Linked DNA regions of Homo sapiens. The protein of the gene in region 2 purifies or fractionates together with the protein of the main gene of each other region. This does not show direct contact. Each region holds a gene or a part of one and is shown on either strand. Other genes may lie near its edges. The genes, in order: VPS33A, SREK1, NAA15 and SRFBP1.

The links.
Region 1: the proteins of SREK1 (region 2) and VPS33A fractionate together in Homo sapiens (co-fractionation; one large-scale study listed by BioGRID). This does not show direct contact.
Region 3: the proteins of SREK1 (region 2) and NAA15 fractionate together in Homo sapiens (co-fractionation; one large-scale study listed by BioGRID). This does not show direct contact.
Region 4: the proteins of SREK1 (region 2) and SRFBP1 purify together in Homo sapiens (co-immunoprecipitation; one large-scale study listed by IntAct). This does not show direct contact.

What each region holds. Positions count from the first base shown.
Region 1 is NC_000012.12:122,233,885-122,240,048, forward strand, and holds part of VPS33A (vacuolar protein sorting-associated protein 33A), read right to left. Parts: intron 6,062-6,164; coding exon 5,994-6,061; intron 4,841-5,993; coding exon 4,703-4,840; intron 2,040-4,702; coding exon 1,902-2,039; intron 1-1,901.
Region 2 is NC_000005.10:66,159,949-66,166,112, forward strand, and holds part of SREK1 (splicing regulatory glutamine/lysine-rich protein 1), read left to right. Parts: intron 1-2,160; coding exon 2,161-2,325; intron 2,326-2,465; coding exon 2,466-2,644; intron 2,645-3,843; coding exon 3,844-3,974; intron 3,975-4,659; coding exon of another isoform or gene 4,660-4,709; exon of another isoform or gene 4,710-4,834; coding exon 4,835-4,949; intron 4,950-6,164. UniProt on the Homo sapiens protein: Participates in the regulation of alternative splicing by modulating the activity of other splice facors. Inhibits the splicing activity of SFRS1, SFRS2 and SFRS6. Augments the splicing activity of SFRS3.
Region 3 is NC_000004.12:139,338,030-139,344,193, reverse strand, and holds part of NAA15 (N-alpha-acetyltransferase 15, NatA auxiliary subunit), read right to left. Parts: intron 3,283-6,164; coding exon 3,125-3,282; intron 1,369-3,124; coding exon 1,234-1,368; intron 9-1,233; coding exon 1-8. UniProt on the Homo sapiens protein: Auxillary subunit of N-terminal acetyltransferase complexes which display alpha (N-terminal) acetyltransferase (NAT) activity. The NAT activity may be important for vascular, hematopoietic and neuronal growth and development.
Region 4 is NC_000005.10:122,013,975-122,017,474, forward strand, and holds part of SRFBP1 (serum response factor-binding protein 1), read left to right. Parts: intron 1-3,500. UniProt on the Homo sapiens protein: May be involved in regulating transcriptional activation of cardiac genes during the aging process. May play a role in biosynthesis and/or processing of SLC2A4 in adipose cells.

The DNA.
Region 1 (6,164 bases), on a different chromosome or scaffold from region 2:
ACAGCTGAACTAATATGTACATGATAGACTCTAGACATTAAGGGTCTCTATTTTCCCACCGGGAAAAAATCATTTAATTTTGCTCCTGACAGAGGAGACTGTCTAGTTATGAGCTTTTGTTGCAAGAGGCGGCCTAATAAAGTTCCTTATGAAAAACCAAAAAAGACTGAAATTTAGAAACATTAGAATAAGTAATAAATGTAAAGCAAAGTGCACCCCACTTTGGAGACCAACAGTAGAGAATATGCACTCTTTATGTAAAAATGTATATGCACAGAATCTTTCTGGAAGGATAGATAAAAAACTGGCCACAGTGGCTGCCTCTGAGGGGAAACTGTGGAAGGAAACTCACTTGGCCCTGATGGCCCTGCTTTTGCATAGCTTTTTTTTTCCCTTTTTCTTTTTCTTTTTGAGATAGGGTCTCATTCTGTCGCCCATGCTGGAGTGCAGCAGTGCAATCTCAGCTCACTGTAGCCTCAACCTCCCAGGCTCAGCCTCCTGGGAGGCTCCCACCTCAGCCTTCTGAGTACAGTAGCTGGGCCTACAGATGCATGCTCCACCATGCCCTGATCACTTTTGTATTTTTTAGTAGAGACAGGGTTTCACCATGTTGGCCAGGCTGGTCTTGAACTCCTGACCTCAAGTGATCCTCCTGCCTTGGCCTCCCAAAGTGCTGGAATTACAGGTGTGAGCCACCGCGCCTGGCCATGGCTGGCTTGTTTATGAGTGCTGGACATCTCCACTGACTCCTCTAGACACTCTCCACCCTTCTCCGCAATGCTCTGTGCCCGGAGATGGACCTGTGCGTCCCACACCAACACACTCCAATGCCTTCTCTTTGGGTCTGACCAAGACAAAGCACCAGAGTGAACTGGAGAGTGGGCAGCAGTGTGAGGATGACGTTGTCACTGGCCAGCTTCCTCTGCTGGAGGTTGACCATACCCTCAGCCAGAGGCCCCTCACCCCTTACCTCACCAGATGGCCTCACCACAGCTCTTCTCTCCAGGTTCTAAGACAAGTTTCTAGAACACCCCCCTCTCCTTGTCCTTCAGGCCGTGGCTGGCAAGGGCTCCCCACTGCACTGCCTCTCCACTCTTCCCACATCTTTATTTATTTGAGACAGAGTCTTACTGTGTAGCCCAGCCTGGAGTGCAGTGGCACAAACATGGTTCACTGCAACCGCCTCCTGGGCTCAGTGATCCTCTAACCACAGCCCCTCGGACTAAAGGCTCATACTACCACTGGCCATTTTTTTTGTAGAGACAAGGTTTTGCCATGTTGCCCAGGCTGGTCTCGAACTCCTGGACTCAAGCGATCTGACCCTTCAGCCTCCCAATATACTGGGATTACAAGAATGAGCCACCGAGCCTGCCCCATAACTTTTTTTTTTTTTTTTTTGAGACAGAGTCTTGCTCTGTCGCCCAGGCTGGAGTGCAATGGCATGATCTGAGCTCACTACAACCTCCGCCTCCCAGGTTCAAGCAATTCTCCTGCCTCAGCCCCCCAAGTAGATGGGATTACAGGCACGCACCACAATGCTGGGCTAATTTTTGTATTTTTAGTAGAGATGGGGTTTCCCATGTTAGTCAGGCTGTTCTCAAACTCCTGAGCTCAAGTGATCTGCCCGCCTCGGCCTCCCAAAGTGCTGGGATTATAGGTGTGAGCCACCGCGCCCAGCCCACATCTTTATTAAACTCTCCAGAAACTCCCCAGTTTAAGAGCATTCTCTGTGTCCTTCTAGGATTCTGATGGATACAATACATGCATACATTACTTTTTCAAAAACATTAGAAAATTGTTTTCAGAAAGCAAGGCAGATGTGTAGGTTCAGAAGCATGTGTTGTCACCTGGACGATCTAACCAGTCCCTAAGCTGAGACGAGGTGGAGAAGTGTGGCTTACTTGCTCATTAACATCATCCATCCAGAGGCGTAATGTTTTCCGTATAGTTGGGTAATTGTTTCTGCCCCCCGTCTGCGGTTTCAGCAGGCCGGCCTTCTCCAGGTTGTGTAAGGTCAATATGTGCTCATAGCCGTATGTCTGCAAGGGAAGTCATTTGGCCTTGATGTCAGATCAGGAAAAGGATTTCTGCAATTTTCAAAGAAGGGCACTTCCAACAAATCAATTTGGTTTGTACTGCAGGACATGTTACCAAAGTCCAGCAATGTTAGTGGATGGGCACAGAGGACAGGGTGGAGGGATGAAACTTGTCCTAAAACTGCTTGCCTGTTACTATTAATTCAGCTCACTGTTTCAAAGAGAAATTTAAAATTTTTACTTTAAAGTCAGAATTTATGGACCCAATCTAAGCAAGCATCAAATAAATGATAGTATATTTTTATAAGGGATATAATTAGCTCTAAAAAAGAGTAAGGCATATGTATACATCCTGATAAGAAAGGTCTCCAGAATATATTAAAAAAAAAATAACATGTAGAGTAGGACATTATTTCTATTTTTAAAAAGTAGCCAAGGTCTGGGCATGCTGGCTCACACCTGTAATCCCAGTACTTTGGGAGGCCGAGGCGGGCCAATCACTTGAAGTCAGGAGTTTGAGACCAGCCTGGCCAACATGGTGAAACCCTGTCTCTACTAAAAATTAAAAAATTAGCTGGGCCTGGTGGCATGTACCTGTAATCCCAGCTACTCGGGAGGCTGAGGCAGGAGAATCGCTTGAACCCAGGAGGTTACAGTGAGCCAAGATTGTGCCACTGCACTCCACTCTGGGCAACAGGGTGAGATACTGTCTCAAAAAATAAATAAATTTTAAAAAGTAGCCAACACTTATAAAATACTTTCTATGAGCTGGGCACTGTTCTGGTCTAAGCACTTACATACATTAACTCAGTCATCCCGGCTCTAACCCCATGACGTAGGTATCATTACCTTCATTTTACAGAGATGTTTAAATAACCTGCCTAAAGTCACACAGCTAGTGAAGAGCAGAGCTGAAACCTGGATCCAGCCAGTCTTGCTCTGAAGTCTGTGTATGGAAACATTCTGTCTAAATGCAAAGAATGGAGTTTGGAAGGAAGCAAATCAGACTGCTGACACTGGTCACATCTGGGGAGGGAAACTGGGGTATGAGCAAGGTACAGGGGACGTTCACATTTTGCTCTGTGTACTTCTGCATTATTTGACTCTTACACAAGGATACATAACTTAAAAAAAGACAAAAACAAAAAATTAATGAGCACTCAATTTTAATAAAAATGTACTTAACTGTCACTGGTAACAGCAAATAAATACTACCTGAGTCATTTTCAAACAAAGGGGAGACTTTTCAAAAACAAGAGTGGCCTTTTCCTTATTATAAGTAACACAGGCTTAATTTAAGTAAACCTGCTAAGCAACTGTCATCAGAAATTTGCAGAAAGTTCTTTTCCTCCGTGGTATAACTGCGGAGTTAAGAACATGGGCGCTACACTCAAATTGCCTGGTTTACCACTGGCTGTGCCACTTACCAGCCAGGTAACCTTGGGTGAGTTACCTAAACTAGTCTGTGCCTCAGTTTTTCATCCATAAAACTGGGACGATAGCAGTCTCTAACTCACAAGGCTGTTGTGAATATTTGTTGTTGTTGTTATGGTAACTACAGTTAACAAGGAAGTATTGTGAAGATGAAACAAATGAATGCACATAAAGTTTTTCTTTTTTTTTTTTTTTTTTTTGAGACGGAGTCTCGCTCTGTCGCCCAGGCCGGACTGCGGACTGCAGTGGCGCAATCTCGGCTCACTGCAAGCTCCGCCTCCCGGGTTCACGCCATTCTCCTGCCTCAGCCTCCCGAGTAGCTGGGACTACAGGCGCCCGCCACCGCGCCCGGCTAATTTTTTGTATTTTTAGTAGAGTCAGGGTACAGAGCCACCGCGCCCGGCCTATAAAGTTTTTCCAATAGATCCTAGCACATAGTAAATGCTCAAGAAATGTTACCTATTATTATTATTTTTTACTTTTTGTAAACAAGCTATGTTGCCTAGGCTGGTTTTGGACTCCTGGGCTCAAGCAATCCTCCTAACTCAGCCTCCTGGGTAGCTGGGACTGCAGACACAGCCACCATGCCTGGTAAATTTTTGTATTTTTTTTGTAGAGACAGGGTCTTGCTATGTTGCCAGGCTGGTCTTGGCCTCCAGCGATCCTCCTGCCTCAGCCCCACAAAATATTGAGATAACAGAGGTGAGCCACTGTGCCCAGCCTGTTAGCTATTATTATCACACAAATACAATAAACAGTGATGGCTACCAAGACCAATTCCTCTAGGTGTTAAAAAATTTATACAACAGTCGTTACAAGATACCAAAATGGCAGCTTTGTAATTTTTATTTTTTTTAATTTTAAATTTTTTATTATTATTTTTTGAGACAGAGTCTCACTCTGTTGCCCAGGCTGGAGTGCAGGGGCATGATCTTGACACACTGTAACCTCCGCCTCCTGCGTTCAAGCGATTCTCCTGCCTGATCCTCTCAAATAGCTGGGACTACAGGTGCATGCTACCATGCCTGGCTAATTTTTGTATTTTTAATAGAGATGGGGGTTTCACCATGTTGGCCAGGCTGGTCTCAAACTCCTAACCTCAAGTGATCCACCTGCTTTGGCCTCCCAAAGTGCTGGGATTACAGGCGTAAGCCACTGTGCCCGGCCCATGAAGTATTTTTTAAAAAGATGCTGTCCCCCTTGGCAAATTAATAATTTAAAAATATACTCACCTGGAGAATCTCTCTTTTGTAATAATCCAAAACTTTTTGTTTGAGCCCACTATTACACACGGATTGGAGGCAAACTAGTCTTAACACCTTGATCAACGAGTGCTTTTGGGCGATACAATCCTCAATGTAATTGTTGACCTGGAAATAAAGTAGCATACATATACATATACATTTACATATACATACACACACACACACACACACACACACACACACACACAATACATGGTTTAGGAACTTAACTTGATGTTTATTATTATTTTTCAAAGTCCAATAAAGGAGATACGTGGGAAAATGAGTTATTTTTCCACAGTCCCTAACCCTTCCCCGAAATAGCTCTGCTAGCCCCAGCCACACACACACCCTGGCCACCACACACACACACACACCCCACACACACATACATACATACACACACACACACACACACACACACCCCCCAGTGATCAGGCCAAGTCACTGGAGCCCAAGGCCGCTGAGAATACAATTGGTCACTCCATATGCCTGTCTGGACACGTCTGTCTCTAAGGACACGCTTCTGAGAGGCTACCAGATGTCTACTCCATTTCAATAGTATCAACAACTAATCTAGCAAAAAGTATCAGTAATTGTTTTATGTTAGGAATTTTCATAAAGTGAATAATTTAAAATTTGTTAATAGAGCTATTTAAAGGAGTTATATAAGAAACTCTTTCAAAAGAGCAAATACCTTATCTAATACAGTCTTAAAAAGATTTGATTTTAGGGGCCAGGTCTCATGTTGCCATGTATGGCAGAAAGTGTCTTGCACAGAATAATGTTAAATATCTGTTACTTGATAAAATCTACACTTGCACATTTTGCATTTGCTCTTAAAAATATTTAAGTGGCCGGGCGCAGTGACTCACGCCTGTAATCCCAACAGTTTGGGAGGCCAAGGTGGGCGGATCACAAGGTCGGAGATCGAGACCATCCTGGCTAACATGGTGAAACCCCGTCTCTATTAAAAATACAAAAAATTAGCCAGGTGTGGTGGTGAGCGCCTGTAGTCCCAGCTACTCGGGAGGCTGAGGCAGAATGGCGTCAACCCGGGAGGCGGAGCTTGCAGTGAGCAGAGATGGCGCCACTGCACTCCAGCCTGGGCAACAGAGCAAGCTGGGTGACACACAGTGAGACTCCGTCTCAAAAAAAAAAAAAAAAAAAAAAAAAAAAAAGGCAAGGCATGGGAATCAAAGCAATTGGTTTTCTGGCTATAATCTGAGGTTTAATAAGCTTTCAATTACTTGTTAAAGAGGTTTTTTTGTCCACATACCTTATCAGTGTCTATTCCAGACATAAACTCCTGTTCCACGGTTAATTTATCAAAAAAGTCTTCAGAAGCTAAAATGAAATTAGCAAATTTGCAACTTAGAAATTAAATGTTAATTTACTTGAGTGGCATGCTTTTATACACAGAGCACGATTCAGAAACTAGACATGTGGC
Region 2 (6,164 bases):
TGAAACCCCGTCTCCACTAAAAATACAAAAACTTCTCTGGGCGTGGTGGCGGGTGCCCGTAGTCCCAGCTGCTCGGGAGGCCGAGGCTGGAGAATGGCGTGAGCCTGGGAGGCGGAGCTTGCAGTGAGCGAAGATTGCGCCACTGCACTCCAGCCTGGGCGACAGAGGGAGAGTCTCAAAAAAAAAAAAAGGGTATATTACTATTACTGGTTCTTGGTTTTTGCTTAAAAAACTCTGGCCATATTTATTTTAAAAGAAGTGCCATTTTTCTTCAAAAGACAACATAGAACAAAATACAAAGCTTGCCTTAATTGGAAGTTGAATCTAGCTTTGTGGTGTTGGATAGGAATTGAACTAAGAAATGAACTATGTGATTGTAGTTAATTTATCTAGATTGTAAGAGTGGTTTCTGAAATTTTGAAGTGCAAAATTTTAGATTTGTAGTTTTTACATAACATTGCTATGCTGAAGACCTGCATTCTGATTCTTGGGGGGAAATGTTTTTTAATTGAACTTATGTGTTCAAGGAACAGAATGGTGGTCAGTATGGTTGAAGCATAGTGAGTGAGGGTCATGAGTGTTTGAGATTGGAGGGGATAGATAGGACACAGATTATGGTAGGGCTTTTTAGACCATGGAAAGAGGGGTTTGAGTTTTATTCTTAAGGTAATTAGAAACCATTGATGGGTTTTAAGCAGGGATATGACATGATTTGACATGTTTTAAAAAGATCAGACTGGCTGCTGTGATAAGTGACATTGATTTCATAAACTTCCGTTTTCACCATTAGCAAGTGCCATTACTTAACAGTTGTTAAAATCTTAGTTCTGTATCATATTTGTATATATAGTCATTAATGGTCAAAATGTTCTCTAATAGTATAAGTGGAAATGAAAAGAGTTGTGCTTTTTTCCTTGAAAGCTCTTTTCGTTCTGAAAAATTTTTTCTGTTTTCAAATTCTGAGATCTTACATTTCTTCTAGTTTACATTCATATTAAAAATAATACGTTCCTTAATGCTGAAAGTAAAAACTGAATTTAGTGATGCTATAGAAAGATCATTCAAAGTTTTTTTGAAGGTTTTTGCCCTTTTCCTACCATGGCATAAGTAAGGGCTCAATATTTTAGATATATTTTCTTAGGTAAACTTTCAGCATGATAATAATAACCCATTTCTTAGGGTTGATATGAGGATTAAGTTACTACCTCAGTTAAATTCGATGCTATGATAATTGTTGACTGTTAGGAACTCATACTCATACTCATCTGTGTTTTTCAATGACCAAGGTACAGTTGATTCTCATTCTTTGTGAATTCTGTATTTTTGAATTCACTTAGTAAGTAAAATTTTTTTGAAATCCCCACATCAACAGTTGGAGCACTTTTGTGGTCGTTCGTGGACATACACAGAGTGGTGAAAAATTGGGGTTTGTCTATTTGCACGGAGGTCGAAATCTTCTTGTTTTGGCACTCAGGCAGTAAACAAGCACGCAGTCTGTTTAGTGCTATGTTCTTTGAATTGTTGTGCTTTTTGTTGGTGATTTCACTGTTAAGATGGGCCCACAAGTGTAGTGCCAAACTGCTGTGTAGTGTTCCTAAGTACAGGGAGATTGTGAAGTGCCTCATGGAGAAAATATTAAATACATGTATTAGATAAGCTTCATTCAGGCCTGAATTGTAGCGCTGCTGGCTGTAAGTTCAGTGTTAATGAATCGACAATATATAACAGCTAAGGTGTCTTTAAACAGAAGAACATATAAAATAAGGTTAAATATTTTACTAGTTAATGTAAATGTGACCAGAGGCTTGTAGGAACTTCACCCTGTATTTTCCCTAGGAATAATGGTTCAATATTCAATAATTCATTGTTCACGGAAACTATAGAACATAGCTATGTCAGGTAATGAGAAACAGCCTGTCTTTTAGGGTCAAGTTTAAAAGTGGCTAAAATATCCAGACAGTAAAATATATTTCAAATTACATTTAAAACTAATGTGACCTTACTTTAATAACTCAGACATATATATGACTGAAAGTTCGGAGTCCCTAGTCTCCTTTCATTCTTGTTGAGTTAGTTCATTCTTTTCAAGATTAGAGAATGGTATCTTTGGATACTAATAGAAAATATGTGTTCTGTGTGTTTTTTTTCTTCTTTCGATAGCTTGGTGTTTCACTTAGCAGTTTGGGAGCTATACCAGCAGCAGCACTAGACCCCAACATTGCAACACTTGGAGAGATACCACAGCCACCACTTATGGGAAACGTGGATCCTTCCAAAATAGATGAAATTAGGAGAACGGTTTATGTTGGAAATCTGAATTCCCAGGTAACTAATTAAAGAAGAAACAAAGCAGCAGTAGCCCTTATTCTTTTTCTCTTCTTAAAAATCATATCAGTGGATACAGTAATATTTATCTGATTTTTTAAATGGATATATTTTATCAAAGTGTCACTTTGTTCCCTTAGACAACGACAGCTGATCAACTACTTGAATTTTTTAAACAAGTTGGAGAAGTGAAGTTTGTGCGGATGGCAGGTGATGAGACTCAGCCAACTCGGTTTGCTTTTGTGGAATTTGCAGACCAAAATTCTGTACCAAGGGCCCTTGCTTTTAATGGAGTTATGTTTGGAGACAGGCCACTGAAGTAAGAAATCCTAAACAAAGAAATTTTAATGATTTTGAAACATTTAAAGTATTTTTGATGTAATGAAGGCTTTTTTTTTCTTTTTAATAGTAATTGGCAATTTGTGGAAAGGAAGACTTTGTGTTAAGTATAAATGAAATACATGAGATACTTACCATTTTAGTCTTTAAATTCCTTTATTTAGAGACATTTATTTTCTCATTTTCTGTTTTCTAGGGTCTAATTCAGTGTTAACATTATTTATATACCCTGCATAACGGTTGTAGGTCTTTTTCCATAAACTTTAATAGTCAGGTTGGTTTTACATTATGACACTAGACTAATTGAGCAACTTAACAGGTGGGTTGAACTACAGTACTTCCAGTAACAACTGTGGTAAATTCAAAATCTACAGAAGGAAATTATAAGTGCCCAGAAATGTTTTAAACCAGAAATTTTGACTTTTGAGGTTTGCTTACATCCTTGTTTGTAAAACGTTGATAATGGCCTTCGAGATACTCCAGACCAGAAATTCTATTTCATGCAGATTGTTGAGGCATATATAGTTTTGCTTGAATTTCATAGATTGCTTTAGTTATACAATTTGATCAGGATTTTTCTGTTAAGGATAAGTTTTTAGTGGGTACTTGTCTTCCCAGTGTGGAAGGGGTAAAGCAAGACACATAATATCCATTCATGTGCATCAGAGAAGTCACTCTTACCTAGTAGAGGAAGAATTTTTTCAGATGCCTTGCACATTCAAAGCTATGTCTAACTCAGCCATGGTTCAGCGTTGGTTAAAATGGTGTACATAATATGATGATATACAGGTAGCTTACCCTTCTTCTAGAGTGTACAGGATATCAGTAAGATCTTTTGATTTGAAAATAGAAATGATTCATTTTCATATTGGTATCAACATTTTAATTTATTTTAATTCTAAGCTATGGAAAAGCACTTCATCTAGTCTGTTTGAATTAAGTTAGCTAGGGTTCAATTTTTCTTTTCTCCCTGCTTTTGGTTGTATTCGCAAGGAATGATAGGAAGTGGGGATGAGAGATTAATCATGGTTTTGAGGTTGCTTTTGGTTATTCTGTATATCATTCTTACGTGCTTCTGAGATGTCCTCACGTTTATAAATATGTGTATCATATAAATGTTTGTTTCATGTTTTATAAAATGTGGTGTGTATTTGTGATATGCTAATATTTTTAATTTAGAATAAATCACTCCAACAATGCAATAGTAAAACCCCCTGAGATGACACCTCAGGCTGCAGCTAAGGAGTTAGAAGAAGTAATGAAGCGAGTACGAGAAGCTCAGTCATTTATCTCAGCAGCTATTGAACCAGGTAAGTACATAACGTTGTTACATAGGTCATAGTTTAAAGATCATAGACTCTTAGAACTGGAAGGAATTTTAGAAATCATCTTGTTCAGTCACTTCATTTTACAAACAAGAAGACTGAAACTCAAGAAATAGTAAGTAGCATACTCATGTCAAAGAACAACTTAGCCCATATTTTATCTCTTTCTGTGATACTGAATTGAGGCACTTTAGTCTGAGCTAATCAGCTCTGTATTTTCATAGCAAAATCAGTGCTCACAAGTGATTTGCTGAAAGCAAAAATGTTATTGCAAGGCTAAAAAGAGTACATATATTTAAAACGTTACGACTCAGCAGGTTTACTTTTCCTCAACATTTTAATTTTAGAAGTAGAGAAGAGAGCCCGTGATTTAGAAAAAAATACAGATACTGTATTTTAGTAAGGTAAAAGAACATCTATTTAAACTTTTGTGTTGCTAATGAAAATAATTAAAAAACCCATTCTAAAAACATCTAGGTGGTTTACATTTGAGCAGATTTTCTAAATCAACACTTAGAATTTAAGCTTCAAATTCTAGCAGAATAAGTGGAGAAAGGACTTAAAATCACTGTCACAGGAATTACAGACATGTTGTAATCGTACGTTACGGCAGCAACAAAATATTACGAACAGCTGTTTATAATCATCTGGTTTATATGTACTGCTGCAGGGTGGCTGCACTCAACGAGTTTATGCAATGACTTTCTTGGATGTTTCTGAAGGAGGAGGATGTACAGAGAGTAGGCCCCTTGCACTATATGTGGTACATTCCACTTGTGCCTGATTATTAACTGGGATCTTTAATTGTTCTGAGCTTACACTGCAAAGTGATTTTTTCCTCCCAGAGTCTGGAAAGAGCAATGAAAGAAAAGGCGGTCGATCTCGTTCCCATACTCGCTCAAAATCCAGGTCTAGCTCAAAATCCCATTCTAGAAGGAAAAGATCACAATCAAAACACAGGTGAGAATTTCTGCTGTCATATTTAAATTTTATTTTAGTTTTGTATTTAAAATATTAAGATTTTATGAGTTTTCGTCAAAATATCAGAAGTTAGAAATTTTAGTAGTGTACACCTGAAGTGTGGTTACCTTTAAATATTGTTCTAATTGTAATACTGTAGTTGAGAATGAAATTTTGTCTAATGATACTTAATTTTTAAATATTTGAACTTATCTTTATTTTTAGAAGTTAGTTTTGTGTCTAAAGATACTCTATTCCAGATTTTTCTAAGAGTAAACTAGTCTTTATATAGAAGTGACAAAAGCTGTTTTCATTCTTCATATTGAGAAAAGGGAACATCCTTAGTGACCATGCTGAAAATAATTGCTCAAGTTGCAGCTTTTTTGTTTTGTTTTCCCAGTCTATTCCAAGTTTGGGGAGCACCACCCCAGATCTTTCACGCAATTCCCTATTTTCAGTACCACGTATCCAAAGGAACACTTTGAGTCCTTGGTATTGCTGGTGATAAGAGCCTCCTCTGCCCACTTTTGGACCTGAAACACAGGAGTAACTTGCAGTTTCAGCTTCAGTTTTAGTACTTTGCTTAAGCTCTGTTTATCTTATTTTTGATCATAGCTTTGTCCTTTTGATTTTCTTTATCTGTCATTTCTTTGTCTTTGGTATAAAGGGGACCTTAAAATGCAAATTTGGCAATACCATCCTAATTGGAAGTACCCTAAAGATCATTACTAAAGTTACAAATTTTGTTGTCTATTTTAAGGTACGGAGGGGGCTGTTTTTGAAATGTGAAAGTATGTATAGTGGATCCTAATTGCATGTTATGTGTACATACGTACTCCTATGTATGTCTTGAGAGAGCAGGGAGGGAAGAGTGTATCTGTGTATGTTGGGATTTTAAAGAAGGAGAAAGGATTTGGGGGAGGGAAAAGGAACCAGTTTGTTGTACATTGTTTTACCAGCAGGCTCAGTTTACTTTGTTTTTGTGTGTGTGTGTGTTGATCAAGGAGATTCAAAGAATGAGGAAAAATAGGATGTTCTTTCTTAGATTCTAGTAAACAAGTATACACCAGATATACTAGTGTATACTTGTCTATTCTTAGTTTGCAAAATCTCCTTTGGAATATGGTTTTACTGCGTTTATCCAAGGACTTACAGTAAGACACTTTCAGAACCAAGTGAAGGAGGTTGTTTCACATACAAGAATAAGGCAGTGCA
Region 3 (6,164 bases), on a different chromosome or scaffold from region 2:
GGGGATGTCTGTATATGGATATAAGGAATACTGACAGTAAGAATTTTATTTTCATATCAGAAAATTGTTCACAATACTCAAAAACATGTAAGAAGTCAAAGGATAACATCCGGTTGATAAAACTAATTTTTAAAAAATTCTTAAGTATCTACAGAGCAACTGAGTAAATAATGACAATATTAGGATATAACAGGTTGAATAAAATAATAATCCATAAGTCCTTACACACAATAAATATGGGGAAGAAGGGAAAGCTCTTACTCAGGAGTAGAATGCCAAATAATAAACCTACAAGGAATGACTAGAGTTAAGAGAATCACCATTTTGCGACTATCATAGTAATACTGATTCAGGCAAGAATCATAATCAATGAATGCTAAAACTAGATGGTGAAAGTTTGATGAGCAATAGGCTATTCAGTCTCAAACTGCATATTAAACACAAAGAGAGAAAAATACGTTTACAACTGCAAATACAACTTTCACCATGTAATCAAATGGAACGAACTGATGGCATGTGCCTCTTGATGTAATGAACGCAGAAGGACCCAATATCATTTATATGGTTTCCTGCCAAAATTATAAAACTCTATCTAAGAATGAGGAACCATCAGAAAAATCCAAATTGAGGGACATCCTACAAAAGCACAGCCTTCTTCAGAAATGTCTATGTCATAAAATACAAAGGAAGTTTTCAAAACTGTTTCAGATTAAAAGAGGCTGAAGAGAAATGATAACTAAATGTAAGGTATGATTCTTAATTGGATCCTGCAATGAAATCAAATTGCTAGAAAGGCTATAACTAGGACAATTAGTAAATTCTGAATATGGGCTGGGGATTAATTAGATAACAGTCTATCAGTGTTAAATTTCCTAATTTTTATAATCTATCCCTATAATACTATCTAGAGAACTGAAAACTATACAGTTATTTTTAGAAAATACACACTAAAGCATTTAGGGGTAAAGGAGCATGATGTCTTGCAATTACTCTCAAACATTTAAGGAAGAAAATTAAAATAGATAAATAGATACACAAATTTTAAAGTAAATGCACCAAATATTAACAATTAGTTTAGTATGAATGAACCCCTATGTAGAGTTCTTTGTGCTATTCCTGCAACTTTTCTATAAGTTTGAAACTATTTCAAAATTAAAAGTAAGCCAGACTATGCACATTATTTTTTTAGTTATACTTAGGATCAGACTTAGTAAAATGGCTTCTAGTTATTACCTGTTGTGTTTTCCTAAATTCTTCTAAAATCTTTGCTGCCATTTCATAATCTTCTAATAAATGGTAAGCAATAGCATAACCAATCCATGATGCTCTCTGCGCAGGTCGAAGCTGAAGTAACTGATACCTCGTTTCCTTTAAAAGGAAAAAAATAAACACTTTTTCTTAGGCTTTTAGTAACAGCAAGTGCTCCTTTAAAAGATCTCCATATTAGGCCAGGCGCAGTGGCTCACGCCTGTAATCCCAGCACTTTGGGAGGCTAAGGCGGGTGGATCACGAGGTCAAGAGATCGAGACCATCCTGGCCAACATGGTGAAACCCCGTCTCTATCAAAAATACAAAAATTAACTGGGCATGGTGGTGCACGCCTGTGGTCCCAGCTACTCAGGAGGCTGAGGCGGGAGAATCACTTGAACCCGGGAGGCAGAGGTTGCAGCCTGGCAACAGAGCAAGACGCCGTCTCAAAAAAAAAAAAAAAAAACACACATTAATTTATCCCACAACCCCAAGCATTTTACAACACAATGATGGGAACAATAATAGAAAATACTTCAAACATCCATATTGTGTAGCTTTATGGAGGCAAAGAAATATTTGTTAAGAACATAATGAAGCCTCCAAGCTAATCTTAGAATTTTTTTAAAACTTAAGACCAGATTTAAGTTTTTAAAACTTAAGACCAAACTTAAGACCCTTCTTTATTTCTTGATCTGCTCAGTCCCAGAAAAGAGGCAGGATGGAAAGAACAGCACAAAGGAAAAATATTCAAAAATGTTTTTAAAAATTAAGTGTCCAACTACAGAGTTAACATACATAAAGAGGAAAGAATATGAAAGAGGAACTAAATAGATCTAACACTAATTTAAGGGTTAAAATCGAAGCTACAAAAATATATTAGAGTCAGTGGAGGTAGAAAGAAGAAACAAAACATTTGTTTTTGCCAGGTGCAGCAGCTCATGCCCGTAATCCTAGCACTTTGGGAGAATAAGGTGGGGTGGACTGCCTGAGCTCAGGAGTTCAAGACCAGCCTGAGCAACATGGTGAAACCTCATCTCTATTAGAATATAAAAAATGAGCTGGGCATGGTGGCACATGTCTGTAGCCCCAGCTACTCAGGAGGCTGAGGCATGAGAACTGCTTGAACCCAGGAGGTGGAAGCTGCAGTGAGCCAAGATCATGCCACTGCACTCCAGCCTGGGCAACAGAGTGAGACTCTAATGTCTCCAAGAAAAAAAAAATTTTTTTTTTGTTTTGCTTTCCAGAAAAATGTGGGAAGTAAATGTTAGAGTTACATGTCAATACTAGACAAAGGCATTGTTTATTTGAGGAGTACTGATTTTCTTTTTTTTTTTTTTTTTTTTTTTTTTGAGACAGAGTTTCGCTCTGTTACCCAGGCCGGAGTGCAGTGGCGTGATCTTGGCTCACTGCAAGCTCCACCTCCCGGGTTCAGGCCATTCTCCTGCCTCAGCCTCCTGAGTAGCTAGACTACAGGCACCTGCCACCACGCCTAGCTAATTTTTTGTATTTTTAGTAGAGATGGGGTTTCACTGTGTTAGGCAGGATGGTCTCGATCTCCTGACCTCATGATTCACCCACCTGGGCCTCCCAAAGTGCTGGGACTACAGGCGTGAGCCACCGCACCTGGCCTGATGTTAATTTTTATCAAATTAAGTCAACCCTACACAGTAGGCCAAATCTGCCTCACCATAAAATAATTTATTTTTAAAGATCTGATTATTCCAATCATAAACATAACCACTGTGGTAGGAGGAAAAAAAAATTCAATTAAATTATTTTCAAAATGAAATAAAAAATTTATGTATCTGAAAGTACTCAAAGTTGTACATATTTTCCCCTTAGAATTAAAAAAAAAAGTCTCTATTTTACTTACCCTGTAACCCTCAAGATCTCGCATTTGAATCTGTAGTAAGGAAAGGTCCCTTAAGATTTGAAGATTGTCTTTATCCCATTTTAGTGCATTTCTGTAACACTTAATGGCTTCATCATACTTCTTGTCTGACCTCTGAAGAAGGCCATAAACGTGCCAACCTAAAGAATTTAGTTAAGGGTACAACCTACAAGTCAAAAATTACTATTCCAAACGACCTCCCAAAAAACTTGGAGAACCACAGCCATTTATAAAACTACAAGCTTAAAAAGAAGGGGAAGGGGAGGGGGAGATTGATTTCAAAGATATAAAGCAGTTTAATACAGTGGAAAAGAGCACAGCTTTTGCAGCCAGAGAAAATTAGGTCTTGCCTACCTTATCAGCTCTGTAACCTTGGACAAATCAGTCTCATTAAGTTTCCTCATTACTAAAATGTAAACAAATAGTCTATGCAGCAAATCATACTACTGACAACTAAATGGGATAACATATATAAAGTGCTCACTGGCTGGCACAAAGTCAATATATATATATGTAAACAGTTACTATATTATTAATAGTAAAAGGAAAAAGAAGGAATGGGTCTTCATGGAATCCAGTTATGTAAAGTCATGAAGATTTTATTTTCTTGAACTAACAAGATTCTTAGGACAACCCTTAGTGTAATACAAAGTTTCTAAAACTCAGCCACATATAAAATAAAAACATTCATTCATTTAACCGTAATTATTAAAACTTCTTTCCCTTTTTTTGAGACAGGTATTGCTCTGTCACCCAGTCTGGAGTGTCGTGGTGTGGTCTTTGCTCACTGCAACCTCCACTCCCTGCACTCAAGTGATACTCCCACCTCAGCCTCCTGAGTAGCTGCGACTACAGGCACACACCAGCATGCCAGCTATTTTTTTCTATTTTTGGTAGAGATGGGATCTCGCCATGTTGCCCAAGATGGTCTCAAACTCCTGAGCCCAAGCAATACACCTGCCTTGGCCTCCCAAAGTGCGGGGATTACAGGCATAAGCTCCCAAACCCAGCCTAAAACTTCTTAATAACTAAGACGTAGGTCATCAAAATAGCCTCCTATATTAAAAGATCTTAAAGTCTAGTAAAGGACAGATAAATAAGCAAAATTAAAGTAGGTTGTAAAAACTGCTATCAAGGAGGAGAATATTCCACTTCCCAAATACAGCCCTTTTTCACTTTAGATCTTGATTACTGTACCAGCTACCCAACCCACCTATCTTCAGTCTGTCTTCTTTTATTCTCCTACCAAAGTAATTGGGTTTTGTTGTTTTTTGTTGTTGTTGTTGTTGTTTGTTTGTTTTTGAGATGGAGTCTCGCTCTGTCACCAGGCTAGAGTGCAGTGGCATGATCTCAGCTCACTGCAACCTCTGCCTCCCAGGTTCAAGCAACTCTCCTGCCTCAGCCTCCCAAGTAGCTGGGATTACAAGCGTCTGCCACCACGCCCAGCTATAATTTTTGTATTTTTAGTAGAGACAGGGTTTCACCATGTTGGCCAGGATGGTCTTGATCTCCTGATCTCGTGATCCGCCCGCCTCCTAATTATTGCGTTTTTTAAAAGAGATGGTCTCGCTCTATCACCTAGGCTGGAGTGCAGTGGCACACTCATAGCTCACTGTAGCCTCAAACTCCTGGGCTCAAACAATCCTTCTACCCCAGCCTCCAGAGCAGCTAGGACCACAGGCACATGCCACCACCACATGCAGTTAATTTTTTATTTTCCATAGAGACGAGGTCTCACTATGATGCCCAGGCTAGTCTTGAACTCCTAGCCTCAAGTGATCGCTGCCTCAGCCTCCCAAAGTGCTGGGATTATGGGCATGAGTCACTGTGGCTGGCCCAAAATAATCTTTTTAAAACACACTCAAAAGAAAAACGGAAGTCCACTTCCCTTTCCAGAAACTTATAACGTTTCTTTCTGAGATCAAGCTCAAACTTCAATCTGGCCAGGTACAGTGGCTCACACCTGTAATCCCAGCACTTTGGGAGGCAGTGGTAGGTGGATCACTTCAAGTCACGAGTTCGAGACCAGCCTGGCCAACACTGCAAAATCTCGTCTATACTAAAAATACAAAAAACACCCAGGTATGGTGGCATGCACCTGTATTCCCAGCTACTCGGGAGGCTGAGACAGGAGTATTACCTGAACCCAGGAGGTAGAGGTTGCAGTGAGCCAAGATCACACCACTGCACTCTAGCCTGGGTGACAGAGTGAAACTCCATCTCAAAAACAAACAAACAACAACCTTCAATCTAACAACTTTTAGGCCAGAGGTCCTCAACAGAGTCAATAAAATACAGAATGTTGGCCAGGCATGGTGGCTCACACCTGTAATCCCAGCACTTTCGAAGGCCAAGATGGGTGGATGGCTTGAGGTCAGGAGTTTGACACCAGCCTGGCCAACATGATGAAACCCTGTCTCTACTAAAAATACAAAAATTAGCCAGGCTTGGTGCTGTGCACCTGTAATGCCAGCTACTTGGGAGGCTGAGGCAGGAGAATCACTTGAAGCAGGGAGGCAGAGGTTGCAGTGAGCTGAGATCGTGCCATTGCACTCCAGCCTGGGCGACAAGATCAAAACTCCATCTAAAAAAAAGCACAAACAAACAAAAAAAAACCCCAGAATGTTTAGGATGGCATGCATGAACTAAAAACACATATTTAATATTACACATTTTTAAAGCAAGTCAAAATATTACAAATTTTATTTGAAAAATAATCTTGATTTCCGTAATACAAATGACAAAGTGCAACTGGATCAAATCCTCTCAGCCGTTTGGATCATGGTTTTATAAACTAGGAAACACTACCCATTAAAATCTAGCTCCCATTACCTATCTTTCCACTCCCTCCCATTTCTATCACTAATATCCTGTATTTCAGGACTTTACCTCTCTTAAATATTGCAACAGCCACACAACTGACTCTCATCTTCATCTCCTAAAAATCCCACCCTCAAAGAGTTTAACATTGCCAAATATTTAAAGAAAATTATGTCCATCAAGAGGAACTCAAATAAATCAT
Region 4 (3,500 bases), about 56 Mb from region 2:
AGCACAGCAAGGTGACTACAGTTAATATATTTCAAAATAGCCAAAAGAGAGGATTTAAAATGTTCCCATCACAAAGAAATGATAAATGTTTAAAGTGGTAGATATGGTAATTACTCTGATTTGATGATTCTACAATGTATGCATGTGTCAATATCACTTTGTACTCTATAAGTGTCTAAAATTATTGTCAAAATAAAACAGAAAACACATCTTAGAGTTTTATAACAATATTTATATATTTATAACATTTTATCAGCTGATAGCATTAACTGTTATTCAGAAACACAAATTGCATATAATTATAGAACCTAAAGCTGTAGTATACATAATTCTACATAACTACTCATTTTATATACCTACATACCCTGTAGACCCAAACTTTTATGTTCTCCTTTGACTCACTGCTGCTACATATGGCTGCAGAGCTCCAATTTGACAACTACAATGTGAGTGACTCTCCGGGGATTATGCAACACGGTGGCCCTTTTCGAATCAGTCTCATTTTATATAAACTTGATATTCTTCCACAAATAAGTGCTCCACAAAGATTGCAACATAAAAACACAGTTATAGAAGAAGACATTAGAAAAAAAAAATTAAAAAAATCTTCATTCATGAGATTCGTACATAATTATAGAATTGTAAATCTTTTTCTAGAGCCTTTCAGAAAAAAATGAAATTCACTGAAATGAGATTACTAAATCAGCGTTAGTCTGGGATATCTTCCAGGGCAGAGAAACAGCTTTGCTAAATAAAATTAATGATAAAATGACTCTTAACAAAATAGCATTTACCCCGGAGTCCACACTAGACATGCAAGTATTACCACTGCTCTTCTAAAACTTGTTATAACTAAGATGGGAAGATATAGCTAACTCTGGAAAGAAATACCCAGTTCAGCAAAGATTTTAGCAAGTTGTCAAAACAGGGATTTGGAAACAGCAGTAGATGTGTTTTTCAACAATTGTTTGAATACATTTTAATCAAAATCTGGTTAGGATTCCCAGAATTTCTTATGTCTGTTTTATATCTGTTCATATATTGAGAATTACCTTTGAAGTGGATTTTTAGAAACTATAAGAGGTAAACATGCTGAAAGAAGCAGTAAAAGGTAAAAAGCTGCTCCTGGAATATCTTCTTTTTTCCTATAACCTGAAGGGCAGTTTCTTGGGGAATACACTTCTCAGGATTAGTCATTTTTGTTGTCATTGTTTTTACATACCAACCTTCTGTAATTAATCCTGAGGATTAAAATATACTGCTTCTTCATTGGATACCAAATTGTTTCTACCAAGACAGAATCTCAAATTGTGTTACCAATCTGGAAGCACACTTACTGCTATAATCTGTTGCTTTAATTTGGCAACAGAAGTCTGTCATGGTAGTATTTTTATTTTAAATTTTTAAACATCACGGGCCTACTACACAGTTTTTTCTTTCTTCCTGATTTTTTAGTTCTGCCCCACCAAGGATTCTACTTGCATGTAATTTAGAGCAGGCATCACGCTTTTTCTGTAAAGGACCTGAAATGAATGCCTTTGTAAGACACACAGCTTCTGTCACAACTACTTCGCTTTACCATTGTGTCGTGAGTGCAGACATAGGCAATATATAAATGAATGACTTTGGCTTTGTTCCATAAAACTTTATTAAATAAAAGAAAGTTCCAGCGGCAGGCTGGAACAGCCCCCATGGGCCAGTTTGCCAATTCCTGGTTTTGAAAATCAAATACTTCTACAAGAATTTTTTTATAAAAGTGGCAGTACTCTATTATTCCTTTCCTGCTTCAATTGCAGTTAGTTCGCATAGAGTTTACCCCTACAGTAAGATGTTTATGTACTGTATTAGCTTTTTTATTTTAAGCACTAGCTATTAACTTTATGTTGTGGTAGGTAAAGATTTAGATCTCTTTTCTCCTTCAGGCTCTAAGTCATATATCCCCTCCATCCTCCTCATATACTTATCTCCTGATATCCCCCCTTCATCCTCCTTATATACTTGAATCAGATTAGGTGAACATTTATTGATTATGTTATTGTGACTGTGAGTCATGTACTGAGTTATTACTACTTTTCTGCATAATATTTCTGTTTTCTACAGTTTGTGATAGGTTTATTTTGTTAGTTTTCTGTCTTATCTGTAGTGTAACACCAAACTCTCCATCTGCTATTGATATGTCCTCTCCAGATATTCAGCACACCAAGTATCCCAAACCTAAGTCTCCTGTCACCATCATCCTGGGAAGTTCCTTCTGCCTAAGTCTTCTGTTTCTTGTCTCCTATGCCATTCTTATTATTTGTATCCTTCCTCATTTTAGGGGAGCCAGTAGCTTCTTGGACAGAAATGTACAAGGATGTAAATTTTTTTGAATAAACTGCATGTGTGGAAGTATTTTTCTTCTTCCCTAGGTTGGAAATTCTTTTCCTTCATAATTTTAGAAGCATTAGCTGCTCTATAGTTTGACTTCCAGAATTAAAGTCTGAAACCATTGTGATCTGTGCGTCTTTTCTTTTTAGTTTATTATTTGGTGACTTGTTTTATTATCTGAAATCTTGTAGGTCCCAATATACTAATGTGACTATTTTCATATATTGTTTTCAGTCTTCTTAGCCTGAAAAATCATGTTTTTCATTGGAGTTTCTATATTCTAGCTTTTAATACTCAAGCAAGCATGTTTGACCTATGCCTTCAGCAGCTCAGCTTGTCACTAAGTGACTCAGGATACTAGCAATAACCTTCCTTCCTAAATTATCTTTTTTCTATCTTTCCTCTATTGTATCAGGAAACTCAGCAGCAGGTTGAAGAAACAGGTTCACTTTGCGCTGTACTTAAATGAATGGTCCATGAGTAGACGACATTTCTTGGAAAAGGTTGAACAGAAGCTGTGTCTAATAGTCAGAATAGATGCGTATCAGTTTCCTAAGGCTGCCATAACAAAGTATCACAAATTGAGTGGTTTAAAACTATGTAAATTGGCCAGGCGCGGTGGCTCACACCTGTAATCCCAGCACTTTGGGAGGCCGAGGCAGGTGGATCACAAGGTCAGGAGTTCGACACCAGCCTGGCCAACGTGGTGAAACCCCATCTCTACTAAAAATACAAAAATCAGCTGAGCGTGGTGGCGGGTGCCTGTAGTCCCAGCTACTCGGGAGGCTGAGACAGGAGAATCGCTTGAACCCGGGAGGCGGAGGTTGCAGTAAGCCAAGATCACGCTACTGCAACTCCAGCCTGGGTGACAGAGTGAGACTCCCAACAACAACAACAAAAAAGTAAATTTATTTTCTCACAGTTGAGGAGGGTGAAAGCTTGAAATTAAGGTGTCAGTGAGGCCACACTTTCTCTGGAAGCTCCAGAGGGGAAACTTTCCTGTGTCTTTGAGCTACTGGTGGCTGATGCCAGGATAACTCCAATCTTTGCCCTTAGTGTTCACGTAGTCTTTACTGTGTCTCTCTGTGCCCCTATATCAAAATATTCTTCTCCTTATAAGGAAACCAGTCTTA